Homo sapiens: one gene and its partners. The protein of the gene in region 1 purifies or fractionates together with the protein of each later gene. This does not show direct contact. Each region holds a gene or a part of one and is shown in the gene's direction. Other genes may lie near its edges.

The links.
Region 2: the proteins of VPS33A (region 1) and ANKRD22 purify together in Homo sapiens (co-immunoprecipitation; one large-scale study listed by IntAct). This does not show direct contact.
Region 3: the proteins of VPS33A (region 1) and RIC3 purify together in Homo sapiens (co-immunoprecipitation; one large-scale study listed by IntAct). This does not show direct contact.
Region 4: the proteins of VPS33A (region 1) and VIPR2 purify together in Homo sapiens (co-immunoprecipitation; one large-scale study listed by IntAct). This does not show direct contact.
Region 5: the proteins of VPS33A (region 1) and VPS39 purify together in Homo sapiens (co-immunoprecipitation; one study listed by IntAct). This does not show direct contact.
Region 6: the proteins of VPS33A (region 1) and P2RY8 purify together in Homo sapiens (co-immunoprecipitation; one large-scale study listed by IntAct). This does not show direct contact.
Region 7: the proteins of VPS33A (region 1) and CD226 purify together in Homo sapiens (co-immunoprecipitation; one large-scale study listed by IntAct). This does not show direct contact.

What each region holds. Positions count from the first base shown.
Region 1 is NC_000012.12:122,256,472-122,260,025, reverse strand, and holds part of VPS33A (vacuolar protein sorting-associated protein 33A), read left to right. Parts: intron 1-3,554.
Region 2 is NC_000010.11:88,845,298-88,848,851, reverse strand, and holds part of ANKRD22 (ankyrin repeat domain-containing protein 22), read left to right. Parts: intron 1-3,554.
Region 3 is NC_000011.10:8,107,750-8,110,038, reverse strand, and holds part of RIC3 (protein RIC-3 isoform a precursor), read left to right. Parts: 3' UTR 1-2,289. UniProt on the Homo sapiens protein: Molecular chaperone which facilitates proper subunit assembly and surface trafficking of alpha-7 (CHRNA7) and alpha-8 (CHRNA8) nicotinic acetylcholine receptors.
Region 4 is NC_000007.14:159,040,361-159,043,914, reverse strand, and holds part of VIPR2 (vasoactive intestinal polypeptide receptor 2 isoform 1 precursor), read left to right. Parts: intron 1-738; coding exon 739-880; intron 881-3,554. UniProt on the Homo sapiens protein: G protein-coupled receptor activated by the neuropeptides vasoactive intestinal peptide (VIP) and pituitary adenylate cyclase-activating polypeptide (ADCYAP1/PACAP).
Region 5 is NC_000015.10:42,163,258-42,166,811, reverse strand, and holds part of VPS39 (vam6/Vps39-like protein), read left to right. Parts: coding exon 1-40; intron 41-162; coding exon 163-249; intron 250-579; coding exon 580-653; intron 654-995; coding exon 996-1,094; intron 1,095-1,698; coding exon 1,699-1,816; intron 1,817-1,922; coding exon of another isoform or gene 1,923-1,939; exon of another isoform or gene 1,940-2,093; intron 2,094-2,325; coding exon 2,326-2,454; intron 2,455-3,083; coding exon 3,084-3,186; intron 3,187-3,416; coding exon 3,417-3,462; intron 3,463-3,554. UniProt on the Homo sapiens protein: Regulator of TGF-beta/activin signaling, inhibiting SMAD3- and activating SMAD2-dependent transcription.
Region 6 is NC_000023.11:1,464,180-1,467,733, reverse strand, and holds part of P2RY8 (S-geranylgeranyl-glutathione receptor P2RY8), read left to right. Parts: intron 1-515; exon of another isoform or gene 516-703; intron 704-1,151; 5' UTR 1,152-1,175; coding exon 1,176-2,255; 3' UTR 2,256-3,554. UniProt on the Homo sapiens protein: G protein-coupled receptor for S-geranylgeranyl-glutathione (GGG), an endogenous metabolite present in lymphoid tissues.
Region 7 is NC_000018.10:69,888,866-69,892,419, reverse strand, and holds part of CD226 (CD226 antigen isoform a precursor), read left to right. Parts: intron 1-3,554.

The sequences.
Region 1 (3,554 bases):
TTTTGCCCAGGTTGGAGTGCAGTGACGTGATAATACCTCACTGCAGCCTTGACCTCCTAGGCTTGAACGAATTTTCAGCCTCAGCCTTTTGAGTAGCTGGAACTACAGGCATGTGCCGCCACACCTGGCTAATTTTTTTTTAATTTCTTTTTTTTTCTATTTTTATTTTTTGGAGAGACAGCGTCTTATTATGTTGTCCAGGCTGGTTTTGAACTTATTCTGGAGATTTTTTAGAAATGAAATTCTATAATACATAAATGGTCCTTTGTGTCTGGCATCTTCACTTAGTGTAATGTTTTGAGGGTTCACCCAGGTTGAAGCCTGCGCGAGGCCTTCATTCCTTCTTATTGCTGAATAGTATTCCATTGTAATGATATTATCATTCATCAGCTGATGGACACCTGATGGGTTGTTTCCACTTTTTGGCTGTCACGATACTGTGAATATTGTGAAAAGTTTTTATGTGGATGTATGGTTTCATTTCTCTTAGATATACCTAGGAGTAGAGACTGGGCGTGGTGGCTCACGCCTGTGATCCTAGCACTTTGGGAGGCTGAGGTGGATGGATCACTTGAGGTTGGGAGTTCAAGACCAGCCTGACCAACATGGAGAAATCCCGTCTCTACTAAAAATACAAAATTAGCCAGGCATGATGGCGCATGCCTGTAATCCCAGCTACTTGGGAGGCTGAGGCGGGAGAATTGCTTGAACCTGGGAGGTGGAGGTTACAGTGAGCTGAGATCACGCCATTGCACTCCAGCCTGGGCAACAAGAGTGAAACTCTGTCTCAAAAATACATACATACATACATACATACATACATACATACATACATACACACATACATACACACACACACACCCCTAGGAGTAGAATTGCTGAGTTGTGGTAACTCTGCATTTAACATTTGGAGGAGCTGCCAAACTCTTTTGCACTGAAGCTGTACCGTTTGTACTCCCAGCAGCAGTGTGGGAGGGTTCCAGTTGTATATCCACATGGACAGACTTATTATTCTGTCTTTTTTTTTTTTTTTTTTTTTGAGATGGATTGTCACTTTGTCACCCAGCCTGGAGTACAGTGGTGCGATCTCGATCTTGGCACACTGCAACCTCGGCCTCCCAGGCTCAAGCAATTCTCCCGCCTCAGCTTCCTGAGTAGATGGGATTACAAGCATGCACCACCACGCCTGGCTAGTTTTTGTATTTTTAGTGGAGATGGGGTTTCGCCATGTTGGTCAGGCTGGTCTTGAACTCCTGACCTCAGGTGATCCACCTATCTCAGCCTCCCAAAGTGCTGCGATTACAGGCGTGAGCCACCATGCCTGGCCTGTTATTCTTTGAATTTAGTCATCCTACTGAGTATGAAGTGGTGTCTCATTGTAGTTTTTATTTGCATTTCCATAATGACTAAGGATGTTGATCATCTTTTCTTGTGCCTGTTGGCCTTTGTCTTCAGCTAAACAAATGTCTGTTCAGATCACTTGCCCATTTTTAAAATTGGGTTCTGTCATTTTTATTACAGAATTGTAAGAATTCTTAATAGATTCTAAATGCAAGTCTCTCCTCAGATACATGATTTCCAAGTATTTTCTTTTGTTCTGTGAGTTCTTTTCACTTTCTTGGTGAGATTGGTGTCGTTCGATGCACTAAAGTTTTAAATTTTGGTGAAGTCTCTTTTATCCAGTTTTTCTCTTGTTACTTGTGCTTTCAGTATCATCTCTGAGAAGCCATTGCCTACCCCAGGATCACAAAGATTCACTCTGATGTTTCCTTCTAAGAGTTCTATAATTTTTTATTTTTTAAAGAGACAGGTCTCACTATGTTGCCCAGGCTGGTCTCACACTCCTGAGCTCAGGCAATCCTCCCGCCTCAGCCTCCCAAAGTGCTGGGATTACAGGTGTGACCCACCGCGCCCAGCTTATAATTTTTCTACATCTTATGTTTAGGTCTTCAACCCATTTTAAGTTAATTCTGTATGTAATGCAAGGTGGGTGTCCAAATTTCATTTTTTACACATGGATATCTATTTGTTCCAGCACTATTTGTTGAAAAGACTGTATTTTCCTCATTGAATTGTTTTGGTACCCTTGTCAAAAATCAATTGTCCACAAATGTAAGGGTCTGTTTTTGGTCTTTTAGTTCTGTTTCACTGATCTATATGTCTGTATGTCCGTCCTTATGCCAGTACTACACTGTCTTGATTACAGTAGCTTTGCCATAAGCTTTGAAATCAGAAGTGTGAGTCCTTCACCCTAAAGCAGGTAAATATATCACTTTTGTTCTTTTAGATTGTGCTTTTTGAGTCTTCATAAATCTTCCACTCTGCAGACAAAGAAGAAAATCTTTTTTTTTTTGAGATGGAGTCTCACACTGTCACCCAGGCTGGAGTGCACTGGTGTAATCTCAGCTCACTGCAACCTTCACCTCCCAGGTTCAAGCAGTTCTCCTGCCTCAGCCTCCCAAGTAACTAGGATTACAGGCACACACCACCACGCCCAGCTAATTTTTTTGTGTATTAGTAGAGACGGGGTTTCACCGTGTTGTCCAGCCTCCTGAGCTTCCACCTGCGCCCGGCCCTTTTTTTTTTTTTTTTTTTTTTTGAGGCAGAGTCTCACTCTGTTGCCCAGGCTGGAGTGCAGTGGCACAGTCTCGACTCACTGCAACCTCCGCCTTCTGGGTTCAAGCAGTTCTCTTGCCTCAGCCTCTCAAGTAGCTGGGATTACAGGCATCCACCACCACGCCCGCCTAATTTTTGTATTTTTAGTAGAGACGGGATTTTACCATGTTGCCCAGACTGATCTCGATGTCCTGACCTCAGATGATCCACCTGCCTCGGCCTCTGAAAGTGCTGGAATTACAGGCGTGAGCCACTGTGCCTGGCCTGAAGCTACTTTTTACCCCAGTTCTCAGACTGCCCCTTATCCCAGAAGCAATCACTATTTCTCTTTTAATTTGGGGTGGGGGGATATTATATGCAGCTACAGCTCATAGTATATAATCCCTCCCCACTTTTGTACAAGTAGTAGCATATGATATATATACTTTGGTATGTTGCGTTATTCTCTTAATAATATCTCTGAGTCATTTTCTACCACGTATGGCAATACTTGTTTATTCTCATTTGAAGCTGCATAGAGTTCCATTGTTTGGATGTACATAATGTATTAAATCAGCTTTCTGTTGGAGAGCATTTTTTTCCTCTCTACGCTGTTGGAGGCAGTGCTGCCGAGAATGAGCCTGTTTGTAGGCCCCTCTGCACATGCGCCCTTTGTAGGCTGCGTTCGCCTTTGTCATTTCTTTTGACATTGCTTCTGGTAATTTTGGCTGTGTGTATGTTTTTAACATAATCACACTTACCCATGTTTCTTTGATTTATGAGTTTATGATGCTGCTGCTGCTGGTGCCGCTGCTGCTGCTCTGGAGACTAGAACTTTTTTTTTTTTAATTGTTTTTGAGACAGATTCTCACTCAGTCACCCAGGCTGGGATGCAGTGGCACAATCTCGTCTCACCGCAACTTCCACCTCCCCAGTTCAAGCAATTCTCCCGTCTTAGC
Region 2 (3,554 bases), on another chromosome or scaffold:
CAAGTTTTATTGGAAAAGCTGGTACAGTTGAGGAGGAGAAGTCAGGGAATACAGGAATAGAGATGTGACTAATTGAATGGCCATTGGACTGAAAGTCAAGCAATCCTATATTTTAGACCTGATTGTGCCAGGAACTTCAAGGGATTTGAGAGGAAGTCATTTAACCTCTCTGAGTCACAGTTTTAATATTACAAAACAAGAGAGCTGAATGAGATCTGGTTTCACATTTAACATCGTGTCATTCTGTGATATGAGAAAGGCTAGGCAGAGACAATGGGGAAAAAATTGCATTCTCACAATCTTCCCAGCTCTCTCCATCTACCTTGTTTATGTATGAACTCCTAGCAAGATTTTGGTATTCAACAACATATGCAAGAAGAGCATCAGGCGTTTTCATCCCAACTGGTTTTCTAATTCTTTCCTTGTATATTGAAAGTAATTTTACAAATTAAAATGTTGTGCTAAGTCACAAAAGTTCAGAGAGAAAATGATAACTTTCACATATGAAAAGACACCAGGATTGAAAATGTGTATACCTTTATTTATTTATTCATTCACCCATCCATTTGTTTAATCAACCATATTTATTGAGTACATACTATGTTTCAGGCATCTTCTAGTTCCTGGTGTATATATGTATATATATATGTATATATACATATATACATATATATATACACATATATACATATATATATATACACGCATATATGTTGGGCATCCCTAATCTGAAAATTTGAGTGGAAGTGCTCCAAAACTCCAAATTTTTGAGCACAAACATGAAACAAGTAGAAAATTTCCTACTTGACCTCATGTGATGGGTCACAGTCAAAATGCAGGTACACAATGCACAGTTTACTCAGAATTAACAAGAGAAAAAAGAATTTCCCAGCCCCTTTCGGCTGTGATATATCTTTTTCTTGAACACCCAGTTTTTCCCATGAAAGCAAGTCCACAAAGGGTAAAAAATGGCACCTGTGCAGGATGAATGAGCCTATAGCAGATTTGCCACTCTGCCTCCATGGGGCCAAGATTTGTGTGTATTTCTCTGTGTGTGTCTTTTTTTGTTTTTTGGGGTTTTTTTTTATTTTGTTTTTGTTTTGCTTTTTCTCTACTCTGTGATGTAAATATACTGTTGAAAATATCAAAAAGGTCTGCAGATACTTATGGGTAACAGTGATAAGAAAAAAAAAGGAAGCATTTATGTATACTTATAACACAGAAAGTCAAGCTTTTGGATAAATTGGACAGTGGTATAGGTATAAAATGTCTGATAGAAGAGTATGGTGTTGAGGCCAGGCGCAGTGGCTCATGCCTGTAATTCCAGCACTTTGGGAAGCTGAGGCAGGTGGATCACCTGAGGTTGGGAGTTTGAGACCAGCCTGGCCAACAAGGTGAAACCCTGTCTCTACTAAAAACAGAAAAATTAGCTGGGTGTGGAGGCATGTGCCTGTAATCCCAGCTACTTGGGAGGCTGAGGCAGGAAAATTGCTTGAACCTGGGAGGCAGAGGTTGTAGTGAGCTGAGATCACATCACTGCACTCCAGCCTGGGCAACAGAGTGAGTCTCCATCTCAAAAAAGTAACAATAAAAAAAGAGTATGGTGTTGAAATGACCACCATATATGACTCAAAGAAATAGAAGGATAAACTGTTTAAGTCCTATGCTGAAGTTAATGAAAAATGTAAAAAAACATTCCACAAAGCTACAAATGAAGATCCCAATTGTGTATTGAGAAAGTGGATCCATCAGTATCACAAAGAACACATGCCACTTAATGGTATGCTGATCATGAAACAGGAAAAGATCTATCACGATGAACTGAAAATTTAAAAGAACTGCGAATATGCGTAGTTCTTTGGCATAAATTTAAGAAAAAACATGGCATTAAATTTTCAAATATTTGTAGTGACGAAACATCTGCTGATCAGAAAGCAGCAGAGAAATTTATTGATGAGTTTGCCAAGATCATCACTGATAAAAATTCTCACACTAGATCAAGTCTATAGTGCTGATGAAACATCACTGTTTTGGCATTATTGCTTCAGAAAGACACTGACTTCAGCCGATGAGACAGGCCTTGTGGGCAATCAGGATACCAAGGACAGGATAATTGCGCTGGGATGTGCTAATGCAGCAGGCACACACAAATGTAAACCTGCTGTAATAGGCAAAAGCTTGAATTCTCACTATTTTCAAAGAGTAAATTTCTTACTAGTCCATTATCATGCTAACAAAAGGCATGGGTCACCAGGGACATCTTTTGTGATTGTTTTCACAACATTTTGTAGCAATGGCTCATGCTCACTGCAGGGAAGCTGGACTGGATGAAGGCTGCAAGATTTTGTTATTCCTTGACAACTTTTATGCTTATTCTTCAGCTAAAATTCTCATCAAAAGTAATACTTATTCCATGTGCTTTTCCCCAAATGTGACTTTATTAATTTAGCCATGTGAGAATGGTGTCCTTAGATCAATCAGTGTAAATATAAAACATTTTCGTAAACAGTATGTTATCAGCAGTGAACATAGGTGTGGGTGTTTCGCATAAAGGATGTTGTATATGCTGTTGCCAATGCTTGTAATGCAGTAACTAAAGACAGTTGTGCATACCTGGCATAACCTCTGTCCTGCAACTATGTTCAGTAAGTATTATAAATAAAGTGACTTTGAATGATTCTGTATGTCAAATGAGAAAAAAAAAAGATGTCTGACCATACATACGCAAAAAAAAGTACCTTCAGAGTCCACCAGTAAGTTGGAAGAAGTTGATATTGAAGAAATTTTTAACACTGATAATGAGGCTCCAGTTGTTCATTTATTAACCAATGGTGAAATAGCTGAAATGGTTCTGAATCAAGATGATTGTGATAATAGCAATAATGACGATGGTGGTTAACACTGTAAAGACTTTGTCAGGGGCCAGATCAGGCAGGTCTTGTAGGCCAAGGTGAAAAATTTAGATTTTATGCAAAACACAATGGAAAGCGGGTAAAGGATCTTAAGAGAGGAATAATATGACCATTAGGGTTTAAAAAGGCCACTCTGGTAGCATGGGAGAATAAATTTGAGAGATGCCAGAGGGAAAGCTGGATCTTGGAAGGAAGCTGTTACAGTAGTTTATGGAGTGATAATGATGGTTGCATTAGACTAATGGGTGAATTTTAGATAAATTTTTAACTAAAAGATTTCCTGGTTTGTAGGTTGGCAGTGAAGGAAAGTAAGAAATTAAAGTTGATACTCAGTATTCTGCCTTAGGCCAGCCAGTGGATGGTGGTGCTGATGAGATGGGAACACTCAGAGAGGGGCAGAAGGAAAGACACATTTCAGGGTTCTATTTGGACATGGTACTTTAGCGATATCCATGAGACATCTAGGTGGGGATGGAAGATGAATACAGGAAATGTACCTTTAAGGAGAGGCTCGGGCAAGAGATAATAATTTAGGAGTTGTCTGCATATACATGGTATTTAACGCCAAGAGAAGGGATGAGTTTAGACATGGAAAGAATGTAGAGATAGCAAAGGATACCAGGTCATTGTAGGAAGGTATGG
Region 3 (2,289 bases), on another chromosome or scaffold:
TTACTCTGATACTACCTGGATATCTAGCTTCCTTTACCCCTGTTCTGCTTAACAGAACTGCCAAGCCCAGAAGTACCTTTGCACTCCTGGTTTTCAGTGGACAGAGGAAGCTTTAGATAGAGACTTTAGACCCTGCCCTGCAGAGTCAAGACTTGAGGCCATTGAAGCTGCAGGAAGCCCTGCCCAGGGATGGTCCTGCCATGAGGAGGCTGCAACCCTATAAGAGGGCTCAAGATTGTGAATTCTGCTCCTGCCATGAGGAGCTCAGAAGGCCAGGAAGCCAGCAATAGGGGAGAGAATCTGTGTGCTTATGGACAGTCCTTACCTAAAGCTGTTTCTGAATGTTGCACCCTTTGAGAAATTTCTTCTCAGAACCATAAATTGAAACAAATGAGGACTGATCTTGTATACAAAGTGCCAACTCAAGAGGGAAGTTGGAGTATGTCTGTTGCAGAGAACCAATATAGCAGTGCCCAGGGGTAGAGACCATGTGTTCCATACTCGGATATTTGGGTCTTTTTGAGAGAGCTGGGGAAAGTAGCAGCAACTAGATTAAGACTGGGAGGATTTTGACCAAACTAAAGGCCTTTTCTCCTTACTGCATCTGACGTGTGTCTTCTTGAGACAAGATAGCACCCATGAATTACATCATGAGGTATGTGTGAATTCAGTTTACATGTAAGACCTGAGAGTTCGAAGAGGGCACATTCCCAAAGACATTCCCAGTCATGAAATGTAGAAGACTGGAAAATTAAGACATTATGTAAAGGTAGATATGGCTTTTAGAGTTACATTATGCTTGGCATGAATAAGGTGCCAGGAAAACAGTTTAAAATTATACATCAGCATACAGACTGCTGTTAGAAGGTATGGGATCATATTAAGATAATCTGTCAGCTACTACTAGGCATTTATTGTTAATTGAGTTACAGAAAGTCATTCAAGACTGAGTTTATAGAAAGCATATTGCATCTATCTCTGTGTAGAACATTTGATTCACATTGTGAAGAATGCAGTTTAAAATATACTGAATGCAATCTAGATGTATTGTACACGAAAGGTGAAAAATAACAGGTGCTCTTTACTGTTTAGATAAATTGTTTTCTGTGTTATTTCCCTTCGTTCACTGTGAGGGGTTGATTCATGAGGAGAGCCCTGGGTTCCTGGCTCAGGTTTACTTTTGGCCTTAGGATAGGATTCCCTTATTAGAGATAAATACTGCTGTTCTCTTCTAGCTCATTCATTCATTTAGCAGTCAATTGCTCAGTGCCAGGTGCTAGGAACAGAGGCTCAATCTCTACCCTCAGAAAACTCAGTGTGACGAGAGAGAGCCTGACAGATAAAATGAACTATGACCCTGTAAGAGGGCTCAGGATCGTGAATCCTGCAGGCAGAGAAACATGAGCCATAATCTGTCCCTGCATTTTCTAGCTGTGGAATCTTGGGTCAGCTCCTTAACTGGTCTGAGCTTTGGCTTCAGGGTAGTAAAGGGAGGGGTATTAAAGGTCCTGGTTAAATGAAATCATCAGTGTGTGTAAAACAGCATTGGTTCTAGCTCATACATGATAACCACTCATTAAGTGGTAATTATGTTTTTATTATAAGGGCTATGCTGTAATTCAGACATGGGCCCAAAACTACAGGAAAGATAAATTGTTTTTGCTAAAGTATTGCCAAGAAACTTCACAGTTTCTTGGGAGGTGGGCCTTGAGGCATGCAAAGAACTTCTTCAGGTAGGCAAAGAAGAGAGGACACTCTTGGCAGAAAGAGTTGTTGAAAAAAGCAGTAGGGTGTGAAAATACATGGATGTTCAAGTATTTTGGTGAGGCTGTTATGTAAAGTGTTGTTGGTCTTTGGGGAAAATTGGCTTATGGAAATTCCTGCCAGAAGTACTAAGCCCTTATGGTGGTTCTTCCTGCCCTAGCTCTTGGTTGGTTTATATATAAGGAATATATTTGTGTATTTATATATCAGACATTTGGATGTACCTTTCAGTTATTTAGGATTTAGAAAATTCTTTTTGGATTTTCCAGAATTATTTTATCCTTCGGGGATGACAGTTATATGTGTATATACAACCCAGGATGACAAAATCATGGGTCCGGTTTTTGTTGCCAGGGCTGCTGTCTCTTTTCTTGCGGTCTTCATTTCTCACGAGGGTGCTGGGAACTTGATCAGTCCCCTGGCCTTTTGGCACTGTGGCAGAGTACACAAGTCATACCTTTATGGACAGTTAGCTCACAAAACAACTGCATAATCTGGGATCACTCTTGGTAAATCAGGTGGGTG
Region 4 (3,554 bases), on another chromosome or scaffold:
TCCACAGCTTTTCCTCTCAGGCTATCAGAGGACCTGATGTTTGCTTCCCCTGCCAAGTGTCTCCTGAGGTGGCGGGAGCTTATTCATTCAGCTTCCAGCATGTCTGCAAAACCACTTCTCAGCCCGCGGAATCTTAGTCTTTTGCCCAGAACCCACAGAAAGGTCAAAACAAACACAACTCCTTGGGTTTATGAAATTTCTCCAGGACCAAGTACCCACAATAGGAACATGAGCTTCTGTCTTCAAAATGACCACCATGTTGGGGTGGGGTGGAAAAGGGTGAGCTAAAGACAGCATGCCCTCTGCCTATTCAGGGCCTTCCCCCGGCTAAGCGTTCACTTGGTTGGCATAAGCCTTTGAGTATCTTTGTTGTTGTTGTTGTTGTTTCTTGAATGGTCCCTACACCACCATTTTCACTGACCTCCTTTGTTGGGATTTTAACAGTTTTTTAATTGTTGATAGGAAACTTCTTATCAAATTCAGTATGTATTTGCTAAAAACGTTTCTTCATCTCATCTACTTTATTATCTCAAAAAAATTCTTAACAGAGCTTTTTCATTTTTCTCTGCCACAGCAAATTGCAGTTGCCATTCATGGTGAAATCTGCTTCATGCCCTCAACTCTTTTATTTTTCTGTGCTTCTCTGATCATAGTATGAGTTTCTCATCTCTGTCTGGTTCTCTCTCCCTCCCTCCCCTTCCCCCTCCAATTCCTCTCTCTCCCACTCCCCCACCTCAGGAAGCTGCACTGCACCAGGAATTACATCCACCTGAACCTGTTCCTGTCCTTCATCCTGAGAGCCATCTCAGTGCTGGTCAAGGACGACGTTCTCTACTCCAGCTCTGGCACGTTGCACTGCCCTGACCAGCCATCCTCCTGGGTAAGGCTGTCCCCACCACAGGGTCCCACTGTCTTGTCCCTTTATCTCTGTTCCCTCTTCTCACGATGAGGACGTCTCTGTGCTGGTGCAGGGTTCCTGTCAGGGCACAGGGTCATGGCTGAGAAACAGAGAGCCTGGCAGAGAGGCTGGGGCCAGAACAGGCCCAGTTGGCAGCTGAGACATGGGGGTGGCACTGAGGCAGGGAGGGTGGGGTTCCCAGGCATCATCAGGGCTGGGAAGTGAAAGGGCCCTGAGCCCTGACCCCCATGGAGCTAGACTGAGGAAAGGCACACCCTTCCTCACACACATCTGGGTTGAGAAATCTTGGCACAGATGAACACACACAACTCTGTTGCTTTCTGTCTGAATCTCCTAGATTCTGAGCAGTAAAGGCTTCCTTCCAGATTGCTGGAAGAACTTGATCTTGTGCCATGGGTAAATTCCTTGTAAAGCCTGATTGTGAACTCAGTTGCATATCTATGAATATCTGCGTCCAACTCTTTGATTTCAGGATAATCTTAATTATTAGTTCCTACAAATGCAGTACAGGGTGTTTGACTCCACCCACGCCCTTCTCCCTCAGCTGTATTTGTAGTAGTTATTGGTGGTTATATAGTACCTAATCAAGTCAGTTTAACATAGCAGGTGCTGTTGAGCACCTCCTACATGCAGGCCGTTCTACCAAGCACATCCCTGCTGGCCCAGAGCACTCCACATGCTCGGCATCTTTGTGAAGGATTCGTGCCCCTGGTACCTCACTCTCAACCAGAGACCCTTGCTACCAAGGTTCTTCTTAAGGAGCCAGGAGCTCCAGACTCTCCTCCCGCATTCCACGCAGATAGGTCCCTCTGCTGGCACAGTTGCTCAGTCTAAACAGATTTGAATTAACTTAGTTTTAAGATAGTAAAGCCGTTTATAACCACACAGACGTCAGCTTTTTCATAGCCCATCATCGTCTTCATGCAGGAAATGTGCCTCTGGGGATAAGCTGGCGCGTGATGCCTGTGAATCAGATTTGCTGTGATAACAAAATTAAAAACAAGATTTTTCACCTGGCAAGCCCCGTTCCCCAGGTGGAGTTGGGCCCCTGGAGTTCCTGTCCTAGTAATAGGGTCTCCCCACATGTGTAACAGTGGTCAACGCCCATAAGAAGTGTGAGGATGGTGTCGGATTCTCTCTCACCGAGATGGTTTCAGGCTTCACTCTGCAGATCCCCTGCCCTTAGCTCTTCATGAAGAAAGCAGTCACCCTTGACAGACACTTGACAGACCCTCAGAGGACCACTCGGACCCATGGCAGACCCTCAACGGACCCATGACGTCAAAAGCAGTGACCCATGAAAGACCCTCAGGACCCGTTACAGACCCTCAGGACCCATGACGGACCCTCAGGACCCTGACGGACCCTCAACGGACCTGTGATGTAGAAAGCAGTGACCCATGACAGACCCTCAGGACCCATGACAGACCCTCAGGACCCTGACGGACCCTCAATGGACCTGTGATGTAGAAAGCAGTGGCCCATGACAGACCCTTGGGACCCGCGACATGGAAAGCAGTGACCCGCAACAGACCCTTGACAGACCGTTAGGACCCTCGACAGACCCTCAGGACCCTCGACAGACCCTCAGTGGACCCCAGCGGACCCTGGAGGACCTGCAACATGGAAAGTGGTGGCCCTCGGGACTGGGTGCTGGCCTGGAGCAGCAGCTCTCTACTCTCCCCTATTGCTTCAACCTGAAAGGAGTGCCCAGAACCTCCGAGGCAGAGTGGATCTGAGCCAGCGTGGCTGCCCCACCGGGAGGGCCTGGCCTCCCACACACTGCACAGAGCATCCTGTAAATGCCGGGCTGTTTCTGTGGACACTGGGTGAACACTCATTCGCCTTCAGAAGAGCAGTTGCCCCATTTCACAGACGAGGAAACTGGGCAGAGGGGAACCCAGCAACTGGCCCGGAGTCTCGGGATCCAAAGCCCAGGTGCATGTGGGGCCCCACGATGCCCAGCAGCACAGAGCCAGTGCCCCAAGTCAAGCTCTGTGAGGACAGAGGGAGTCGGCTTTGCCCCTTGTGCCAGATGCCCCGTGACTCTAGTACCAGCAAGGGGAAAGCAGAGGCAAAGGGAAAAGCATGTGACAGACAGAGGAGGGAAGGGACAGAGGACAGGAGGGAGGGGAGATGCCTGAGGCCAGAGAGGAGCCAAGCTGGGTCTTCCCTCTCGCTGTCCTCTAAAGAACGCTCAGGCTTTGAATAAACAAGTCAGCCAGAAATAGTCAGACCTCAGTATAAGAAACAGGAAAAATAGCTTTCCTTCCAGTTGAATTTTTTTGTATATTTTTTGTTCCCAGCTGACTTCACCAAACCAAGGTTATTCTCCCAGGCAGAACACCTGGGGCAGCACCCCCAAAATAGGTGCAGGGTCTTTTTCTCATGATATTAGGATCAGCCAAGAAGATGAACAGTTCTCTTCTTGGCCCCTTCCATGCGGCCTAGACAGAGACACAGTTTCCTCTGGGGCCCTGGGCTGTCCCGGGACACGGAGCAAACCTGCCCTTTATTCTCACCATCAGCCACAGCAGGTTCCCCTGCGGGGTCTGTGGGACTCCCAGAAGCACACCCCCAAGCTTACTAAGCTGAGTCCTGCCTGCCTCACGTGCACATGTGTGCGTACTCACGT
Region 5 (3,554 bases), on another chromosome or scaffold:
CTTATCATCCTGTATGAGAAGAAGGGGCTCCACGAGAAAGGTGTGGGAGTGGTTCCTTGGATCTGGGAGGGGCTCTTGTACATGGCAGGGGAAACCCACTGAGATATGGAAATCTCCCGTGGGGAAAAGGCTCATGACCTTGTTCTTGGGCTTGGTGGCCAGCTCTGCAGGTGCTCGTGGACCAGTCCAAGAAAGCCAACTCCCCTCTGAAAGGCCACGAGAGGACAGTGCAGTATCTGCAGCATCTGGGTAAGTCCGCCTTTTGAAAGGGGTGGGAAAGCGCTCCTGTTCAAATGACCTGGTCTCCCTCTGTTTCTGTTTCTGGTTGGTTGCTCCCCTCCCTCCCGTGCTCGTGTTCACTCAATTTCATTCCTCCAAATGGCATAAAAGTCCCTCGGTGGTTGGCCTGTGACAGCCCCCTGGTATGGAGCCAGCCCAGTAGGGCTAACAACCCCAAGTGGCTCATGCTTGAGCTGTCTTTTCAGGAAAATGAATTCTGGGGCAACCTGCCCACCTGCCTTCCCAGTGCCACAGGCAAGATGGGCCTCAACTGCTGACAAGTCCTGCTTTTCCTTCTAGGCACAGAAAACCTGCATTTGATTTTCTCCTACTCAGTGTGGGTGCTGAGAGACTTCCCAGAAGATGGCCTGAAGGTGAGCCACAGGAGTCCCTTGGATTTATCTGGTAAACACTTGGTTCTGATTGCACTTGAGACAGCAGTGGATGGAGAGGAGGGTGGATTCATGCATCTGTCTTCATTGGTGCATGAAGAAAGGGTGGACTGGGAAGCGCGAGCCAGCACTGTAGTTGGTAGAGAGAGCCTTACACAGGCATGAGGAGGCCTGTGCCTCGTCTGACATGCTGACTGCCTACAGATGCCTTCTCGTACCCTTGCCCTCCTAAAGTCTGTTTGATCCCTGCGCTCACATGCGTGTGTGTTTGCTGGAACTGCAGTCAGATGGTTCTGCTGCTGGAACTCGGGTTCATTCTAACAGATATTTACTGAAGATCTCCCGGAAGTGGAGTCTCTGCCACGTGATCGAGTCCTCGGCTTCTTAATAGAGAATTTTAAGGGTCTGGCTATTCCTTATCTGGTAAGGTATTTTTTGGTCTGCACTAAAAAGCTTTAAACCCAGGATCCAGGACTGCGTGGTTCTGTTATCGGGCTGTTCAGATTTGGGATTTATGTCACTTGGGGATTGGAAGGATGAGGGTTATTTCAGCTTCCTCTGAAGAAAAAGATCCCAGTAGACCAAGCTGGAAATGCTACCTACCAAATCTAGGTAAACTACAGAGGGATAAAAGAATAATGTTTTAGAAAAAAAAATTCCAAAGCCACATTTGGAAAAAAAATTCCAAAGCGAAACTCAAAAGTGACCACAGGACAATCAAATAGGCTTAAGTACCAGGATGCAGATATTTAACCACAATTACATGAGTCGCTATGAGAGTTTGGAGGATTATGGGACAAAATTAGTAAAATGGAGTTTAGTAATTGAGAAGATGGCTCCTCACGTTACTGGGTCGCATTGTGAAACTTCCTGGTGGCTTTAGACGAGCTGTCTCTTAGTCATCTTTGCAGCCCGATTAGGGGATAATCTGGATGGGACCTGTTGGGCCTTAAAAATGTGAGGGAGGCTGGGAGACCAGGTCACAGCCTGGAGAATACCAGTGACAAAGACCTACATCTTGCCTCAGGAACACATCATCCATGTTTGGGAGGAGACAGGCTCTCGGTTCCACAACTGCCTGATCCAGCTATACTGTGAGAAGGTGCAAGGTCTGATGAAGGAGTATCTCCTGTCCTTCCCTGCAGGTACCAGTTCTTTTAGGAAGCCGGTTGGCCCCAGGCCTTAGAGGAGAGCACAGACCCAGGTGCCACGTGTGGTGGGGGTAAGCAGGCCACCCTATTCTCTGCCCAGGTGCGCAGAAGTTCTGAAGAGGAGCCAGGGGAGCTAAGTGACACAAGCCTGGCACATGAGACTCAGGAGCTCTTGTCTAGGTCCTGGCATCTCTGAGTGTCTCAGAGTCATCCCTCGGGGAGGGTGGAAGGAACAGACCTGTCTGCAAGATGACAGCTATACTGATAAGAAACAGGTTTGCCCACAGAGTATTTCTCTATTCAGCTTATTTTTTTAACCGTAAGCTGATGTTTTGGGGCCACATGGAGACTATGAACTAAAAGAAGTTAGCATGGAAGCCACCCTGGAGGCCCTTTCTGGTCATGTGGTGACATCCTTGAACCCCATTCCCTTCATTTTTCTTGATGACCCTACATTGCCACCTGGCAGTGTCCTTTCATTTTGAGCTTGGTTTCCCTTAAAGGCAAAACCCCAGTCCCAGCTGGAGAGGAAGAGGGTGAGCTGGGAGAATACCGGCAAAAGCTCCTCATGTTCTTGGAGATTTCCAGCTACTATGATCCAGGCCGGCTCATCTGTGATTTTCCCTTTGATGGTGAGTGTCTGGCTTAGGGCCAGAAGCCACTTCAGCGAAGGTCATGCAAAGACTAATCCACCCCTTTAATTGTTCCCCAACTCTCCACAAAAGTTGGGCCTGGAAAAACCAGGCATTTCAGGCCAGTGCTCCTGTTTTGTCCTCTCTGAAGACTCACTTTTGTACCGTGACTGAGAAAAGTCTCCTTCCTGGGTATGAACCACATGCTAATTGATAGCCAGGTTGCAACCTGTTTTTTGCTTCAGAACATGTTCTTGGCCAAGTTCATTGTTCAGCAGTTTTTGTAATCTGGCATAATTTGTCTTTATGAGAGCTGAGAGCAAGCATTTGCTCATCTTACCTGAACCACCTAGCATGTTGTAGGTGGTTGTTAAGTACTTGGCTGCTGAATGAATATTCTTACCCAGTTTATATGTGACCTCAAAAAAGATGGGATAAAGTACTTCCTAAAATAGCTCCCTCCCCCTTTTTTAAACTTCAGTTATTTTCTCCTTGAAGAAAAACCCAAGCAATAAGAATCCTATTGTCTTCCCTTTATATTGCCTCGTGTCCACTCCTCTGACAGCATAGCCCCCACCTTGTGCTTGCGTGATGGCGGCAGTGGTTCCTCATATTCCTTTTCCTCCTAGGCCTCTTAGAAGAACGAGCTCTCCTGTTGGGGCGCATGGGGAAACATGAACAAGCTCTTTTCATTTATGTCCACATCTTGAAGGATACAAGGATGGCTGAGGAGTAAGTTTGCCCCAACATCCCACCTCCTAAGCAGTCTAAAAGCAGGCCCTGCAGAGAGATGAGAGTTAAGAAGGCCATCTCCCCATACTCCACTGCGGGAGCAAGAATCGCCTCCGTCCTGGCCCGCAGTTTTGGCTGTGGTTAGGCTGCTCGAGCAGGCTGCACGCACAGCCTCTCATTTAGATGTGCCCCCCTCACACCACCTGCTCTCACCACTCTCTCCCTTGCAGGTACTGCCACAAACACTATGACCGAAACAAAGATGGCAACAAAGATGTGAGTAGTGACCCTGACCCAGGGAGCACGTGTGCATACCTCTCCCCGTTGGTTTGACCAGAGGTGGCAATAATATGAGTGGCAGAATAAGA
Region 6 (3,554 bases), on another chromosome or scaffold:
CTGCCCTCCAGCCTGGGCAACAAGGCAAGACCCCATATCTATAAAACAAACAAACAAAAGAACAATTCCAGGGCACCCCTGTTTCCAGCTCTGTCCACTTTACATTCTCAAAATAAAAGTAGTGTCCCTTTGACAGACACTTTTTCATCACCAGCTCATGGATAAAGCGTCTCTCCTTCCAGACGTCCCCCACGGCCACACCAAGCGGAACCCAAAGAAGGAAGGGTCTGCTTTTCCTCCTGAAGCCATAGGTGGCTGGAGGTGCCCAGCTGGCCGTGGGGAGCGGTGCTGACTCGTGCATAACTGTAGGTTTCACACCTGGGCACGGACCGGCGGGTCAGAAAACTTCTCCCTGAAACTGAAACGAAAACTCCGGGCCATTTTAAAGCCAGCTTGAGGAAGCTGTTTGTAGAGCAGTTGGTAAGAAGTCGCAGGTCTCCTCTGGAGGAAGAAAGAGCAGGGAGGAGCCGTGGGTTGACGCGGGTGTTAAAAGCTGGAAAGACTTTGGAGGCTGCGGGTTGGTCTCCTGGCACTCGGAGTGTGTGTTTTCTGCTGATAGACACTTTGTGGGTGGATGCCCCTGAGATGAGAGGACTCATACCCAGACTAATACTGCCAGGGTGTCAAGAATTCCCATTAAGACCACCCTGGGGGCTGACGGTGGCTTTGTGGTTTCCGTCCACGGGGGACACTGAGTCTTGAGGTTTGTATGACAATGCATTCAACCTGCCCAGGGGAGCCACAGCCCCACTGTGGATCATCTAAGAGTCTCAGCCTCTGACGTGGGCCGAGGTCTCCAATGACCTCCCTGATCCAAGGAAGGACGGGAGGGAGGGAGGGCGGGAAGGAAGGAAGGAAGGAAGGAAGGAGGGAAGAAGAGAAGGAAGGAGAGAGGAGGAAGGAAGAAGAAAGGGGAGAAGACAGGAAAGAAGAAAAGAATGACACAGGGTGAAGAAAGGAGGCAGAGAGGGAGGGAAGGAAGGAGGAGAGGGAAGGAGGAACTAAGGGAGGGAGGGAGGGAGGAGACAGCAGGCCCTGCTAAAGCATCTCCCCCGCCTTGGTCCCCGGGGAGCGGCGCTCAGGAGCCCTCCCGGCAGCCGCCTCTTTACCTGCGCCCCTGACCCGTACACCCTTCCCTCCTTCCCTTGCAGAGCCCGGGCGAGGACCCCTCCAGGATGCAGGTCCCGAACAGCACCGGCCCGGACAACGCGACGCTGCAGATGCTGCGGAACCCGGCGATCGCGGTGGCCCTGCCCGTGGTGTACTCGCTGGTGGCGGCGGTCAGCATCCCGGGCAACCTCTTCTCTCTGTGGGTGCTGTGCCGGCGCATGGGGCCCAGATCCCCGTCGGTCATCTTCATGATCAACCTGAGCGTCACGGACCTGATGCTGGCCAGCGTGTTGCCTTTCCAAATCTACTACCATTGCAACCGCCACCACTGGGTATTCGGGGTGCTGCTTTGCAACGTGGTGACCGTGGCCTTTTACGCAAACATGTATTCCAGCATCCTCACCATGACCTGTATCAGCGTGGAGCGCTTCCTGGGGGTCCTGTACCCGCTCAGCTCCAAGCGCTGGCGCCGCCGTCGTTACGCGGTGGCCGCGTGTGCAGGGACCTGGCTGCTGCTCCTGACCGCCCTGTCCCCGCTGGCGCGCACCGATCTCACCTACCCGGTGCACGCCCTGGGCATCATCACCTGCTTCGACGTCCTCAAGTGGACGATGCTCCCCAGCGTGGCCATGTGGGCCGTGTTCCTCTTCACCATCTTCATCCTGCTGTTCCTCATCCCGTTCGTGATCACCGTGGCTTGTTACACGGCCACCATCCTCAAGCTGTTGCGCACGGAGGAGGCGCACGGCCGGGAGCAGCGGAGGCGCGCGGTGGGCCTGGCCGCGGTGGTCTTGCTGGCCTTTGTCACCTGCTTCGCCCCCAACAACTTCGTGCTCCTGGCGCACATCGTGAGCCGCCTGTTCTACGGCAAGAGCTACTACCACGTGTACAAGCTCACGCTGTGTCTCAGCTGCCTCAACAACTGTCTGGACCCGTTTGTTTATTACTTTGCGTCCCGGGAATTCCAGCTGCGCCTGCGGGAATATTTGGGCTGCCGCCGGGTGCCCAGAGACACCCTGGACACGCGCCGCGAGAGCCTCTTCTCCGCCAGGACCACGTCCGTGCGCTCCGAGGCCGGTGCGCACCCTGAAGGGATGGAGGGAGCCACCAGGCCCGGCCTCCAGAGGCAGGAGAGTGTGTTCTGAGTCCCGGGGGCGCAGCTTGGAGAGCCGGGGGCGCAGCTTGGAGATCCAGGGGCGCATGGAGAGGCCACGGTGCCAGAGGTTCAGGGAGAACAGCTGCGTTGCTCCCAGGCACTGCAGAGGCCCGGTGGGGAAGGGTCTCCAGGCTTTATTCCTCCCAGGCACTGCAGAGGCACCGGTGAGGAAGGGTCTCCAGGCTTCACTCAGGGTAGAGAAACAAGCAAAGCCCAGCAGCGCACAGGGTGCTTGTTATCCTGCAGAGGGTGCCTCTGCCTCTCTGTGTCAGGGGACAGCTTGTGTCACCACGCCCGGCTAATTTTTGTATTTTTTTTAGTAGAGCTGGGCTGTCACCCCCGAGCTCCTTAGACACTCCTCACACCTGTCCATACCCGAGGGTGGATATTCAACCAGCCCCACCGCCTACCCGACTCGGTTTCTGGATATCCTCCGTGGGCGAACTGCGAGCCCCATTCCCAGCTCTTCTCCCTGCTGACATCGTCCCTTAGTTGTGGTTCTGGCCTTCTCCATTCTCCTCCAGGGGTTCTGGTCTCCGTAGCCCGGTGCACGCCGAAATTTCTGTTTATTTCACTCAGGGGCACTGTGGTTGCTGTGGTTGGAATTCTTCTTTCAGAGGAGCGCCTGGGGCTCCTGCAAGTCAGCTACTCTCCGTGCCCACTTCCCCCCACACACACACCCCACCCTGTTGCTGACCAAGGTGATTTTTGGCACATTTGTTCTGGCCTGGCTTGGTGGGACCCCACCCCTATTCTGCTTCTGTGAGTCCCTGATAGAGAAGGAGGTCCCATCAGGCCCCTGGAACACACTCAGGCTTCCCTGACTCAGGACAAGGACCACGGGAGGCCCAGGTGCGGAAAGGAGGCTCCGTGAGATGGGGTCCAGCCCATCCCAACACAAGGGTGCAGCTTGATTCGGGAGTTCCCCACCTCCTGCCCATTCTCCGCGTCCTTTTACCCCATGGAGAGCCTCAGCCATGGCAAGTCCATCTGGAGTCCAGGAAGCAGGCAACTGGCCTGACCCATGAGACCGTTTGGAGACCAAGCAGCAGATGCAGGTGTGGACCCCAGGAACCTACAGGGGTGTCAGCCGCTGAGCCCCCTCCCTGCTGTGTGGGTGGTGAGCAGGCTGGGTCTTTGTCTGTCTTCTTCTACACGGCATGTGCCTGCACCAGCCCCAACACCTGAGCTGGTTTAGCGCAAAGAAGAGCTCTGACTCTCCAGGGGTGCTGGGACATCACGTGGAATTGGATCCCAGGCTCTCTTGGGCGAGAAAGACCATTCTGGA
Region 7 (3,554 bases), on another chromosome or scaffold:
TTTATTGACAGTGACTACAGTTATTTTTGGCCCTTAACATCCTCTGGATTTTCATTTGTCATAAGAGAAGTATTTTAGGTGCCACTAAAATAATTTGTCAAATATTTTAATATTAGCTAAATGATTTGCAGACTACTATTGTTTAAACTGACCTTATTGGCTATAAAAAGAATGAAGGCAAAAGAAATAAAATCAGCTCTTGCAGAAAGTTTCTGGAGGAGGCTAATATTGAAAAAACTTCTGTTTGCTATTGATAAGTATAATTACTCATGTCCTTGTATAATCGTCTTCCACCAGTGAGACCACTCAGGCGGGACCATCAAGGTTCAAATGAGGCATTGATGATTAGAGCTGAGGAATGACATGAAACAGGTTATGAAGAGTAACCCCAAATATGCAGGAGGAATGGGGAGATGGTGCATGGGAGACTGTAGTCAAATGACTAGGTTGGTATGGAGAGTCTAAGTTATGTATTAATATGGGACGAGGTAGGTTAAATTAAGTGATGACAGTGAAAACCTGCATCTCATATAATTGTCAAGCAAAGCTACCATTAGTTCTTGAGCAAAGATGGCAAAACAATAATCATGAAAGAATAAGTTGCTATATGATTTTCAGTGTGCAAGTCTTTAACATTTTTGGTTAAGTTTATTCTTAAATACTTTATTCCTTTTATTGTTATTGGGGATGGGATTTTGTTTTAATTCCTTTTTTGGATAGTTTGCTGTTTGTGTACAGAAACCTGACTGATATTTTATATGTTGATTTTTGTATCCTGCCTCTTAACTGAATTCATTTATTAGTTTGAACAGGTTTTTTTGTGGCACTTTTAGGGTTTTATACATATATGATTATGTCATCGGCAAACAGAGATAATATTACTTCTTCCTTTCTGATTTGAATGCCTTTTGTTTTCTTTTTCTTGTTTAATGGCTCTGATTAAGACTTCTTGTACTATGTTAAGCAGAGGTGTTGAAAGTGGCCACCTTTGTCTTTTTCCTGATCTTAGAGCAAAAGTTCTCAGTCTTACATGACTTGGTATGATGTTAGCTGTGGGCTTTTCATAGATGGCCTTTATTGTGTTGGGGTAAATTCTTTCTGTACCTAATTTGTTGAGAGTTTTTTTTTTTTAATCACACAAGGATGTTGAATTTGTCAAATGCTTTTTATGCTCTATTTTGATGATCATGTGGCCTTTTTATATCACTTTGTTAATGTGGTGTATTACATTGATTGATTTACATATGTTGAACCATCTTTGCATGCCAGGGATAAATCAGAATTGATTAGAATATACAATCCATTTAATGTGATGGTGAATTTAGTTTGCTAGTATTTTGTTGAGGATTTTTTCATCTGTGTTCATTAGGGATGTCAGCCTGTAGGTTTTTTTTTTTTTTTTGTGGTGTCTTTGTCTGGTTTTGGTATCAGGGTGATGCTGGTCTCATAAACTGAGTTTAGAACTGCTTCTTTTTTTAAAAAAGAATTAAATCATTTATTGATTACACATGATAATGTAGAACTGTTTCTAAACTCAGGATTGGCATTAATTCCTAGAATGTTTGATAGAATTCATCTGTGAAGCCACCTGGTCCTGGGATCAGTGATGGGTCATAGGCCACTGATCCACCTACCTTTGTAGGCACAAAGGTGTCCTACACAGGGTAGAGAGATACTGTCAGCATGATTTGAATCTCAGTTTGTGCTTTCCACTGCCTCAAAACACTCACACTTTCCTACTTTCTCCTTTTTCTAACTGACTAAGTTTCCATCACATTTGCTTTCTTTCCTATAGAGTTTCAGCCGTCTCAATGTCTATGTTTTTTTCCACATCAGACCAAACTGCTTCCCCATCATTGAAATATTAAGCATCTTGGATTTCTCAAACTTTTATAGTCTGAAAATTGCTACCCTCGAGTGACTTATTAACTTCCATCTATTTGTATTTATTTATTTATTTATTTTTTGAGACCGGGTTATGAGACTGGCTAATTTTTGTATTTTTGGTAGAGATGGGGTTTCAAGGATGGTCCTGGGCTCAAGCAATCCCCTGCCTCAGCCTCCTAAAGTGCTGGGATTGGTAGTGTGAACCACCACACCTGGCCTGCATCTATTTGTAATGTTCCAAACTCTGGTTATCAGAAATTAATTGAGATTAAGGATTATGGCATCTGCTTAAAGTTGTCAAAGCATCTTTTCAGAATATGCCCAGTAAGTGTTCTTGACCGATTATGTTAATGTTTCTATTCATTCTAGTAGGGGCTGTGTCCATTTTAATTTTAAGTTTTCTACCTCTTTTCTTTCCAGATTTTTTTTCTTCAACGTTTAACCTTTGAGGTTTACTGATTGTTGATCAAAGAAACTGAACTTTCAAAAGATCAACTACAGTGATTGGAGAAAAAACTTTCATGAACTCTTGTTTACATATATAACTTTCAGATAGGGCTATTTACTTTTTTAACTTTCATTTTCTTATTTTGAATTTTTAATATAAGTGGCACATAATTGCTGGTCATCTGAATAGAAGGATGGGATTAGTAAATTAAGATTACAAAACTATTCACTAGGAAATCATAGTGCCACAGCTAAGAGAATCTTCCCAGATATTTCCTCTGGGACGATGTGAGGTATAGGATTGACAAGGAGGAAGGACAGGGGAATAGAGTGCTGTAAGTTATAAATACATCCGTATATAGATGATACATCTTATTTATACAGATTATAAATCTTGCCTGTAGATGGCTTGTGGGAGGTTACTGACTTTGAGACTCTGTGCTCCTGAGTTGGATTATAAAATTATTGAAGAAAGGAAATAAATTTTGCTTATTTCCTTGGCCTTTTATTTCTGTCAAAAACCAACCAGTTTGCTCCCAGTCCATTTGGATTCCAGAAGAGTTTCAGGTTGTAGACAAGACAGTTTTTTTTTTTTTTTAAGGATTCCATTAATCCAGAACCTTCTGTCCCACTCCTATGAATTTAGAATAGATATAAAGCTTGTGGACATGAGGATTGTCTGAACTGGTGTGCACTGGGCTGACAGATATGTCCCTTTCCATGACATTGTGTGGTGAACCTCAGCCTTTTATTATCTTTACCTACATGGAAAGTAAAATGTCCATGACAGTTAATTTATATGATGGAGCAACACGACCAGAATCCCAGAGCACCGTGTCACTGCTCACAAGCTAAAATAACCTCTACTCAAACAGATCAACCACAATTTTCAGCCCAATTTAGTTTTCTCGGTGAAACTGGGTATCCAGATGAAACATAGTTTCCAGCATCACAAGTGAGTTGATTACTCAATCATGGCTATTATGTGGTTGAATCTTTACTTTACTGTTGCCTCTGCCCAGATCATTTTTTTTAATGATCTATTGCATTCAAAAAAATGCAACCGGTCAGTTAATTTGTTTTGTAAGCCCTAGTATTGATCTATTCATTTTTTGAACACACAAAAACCTAGAATGTTTGCCTGCAGTCATTTTTTATACATACTATTATTGTATAGATAAGTAAGATATTGAATAATAGTGATAAGTTATTGTCAGAGG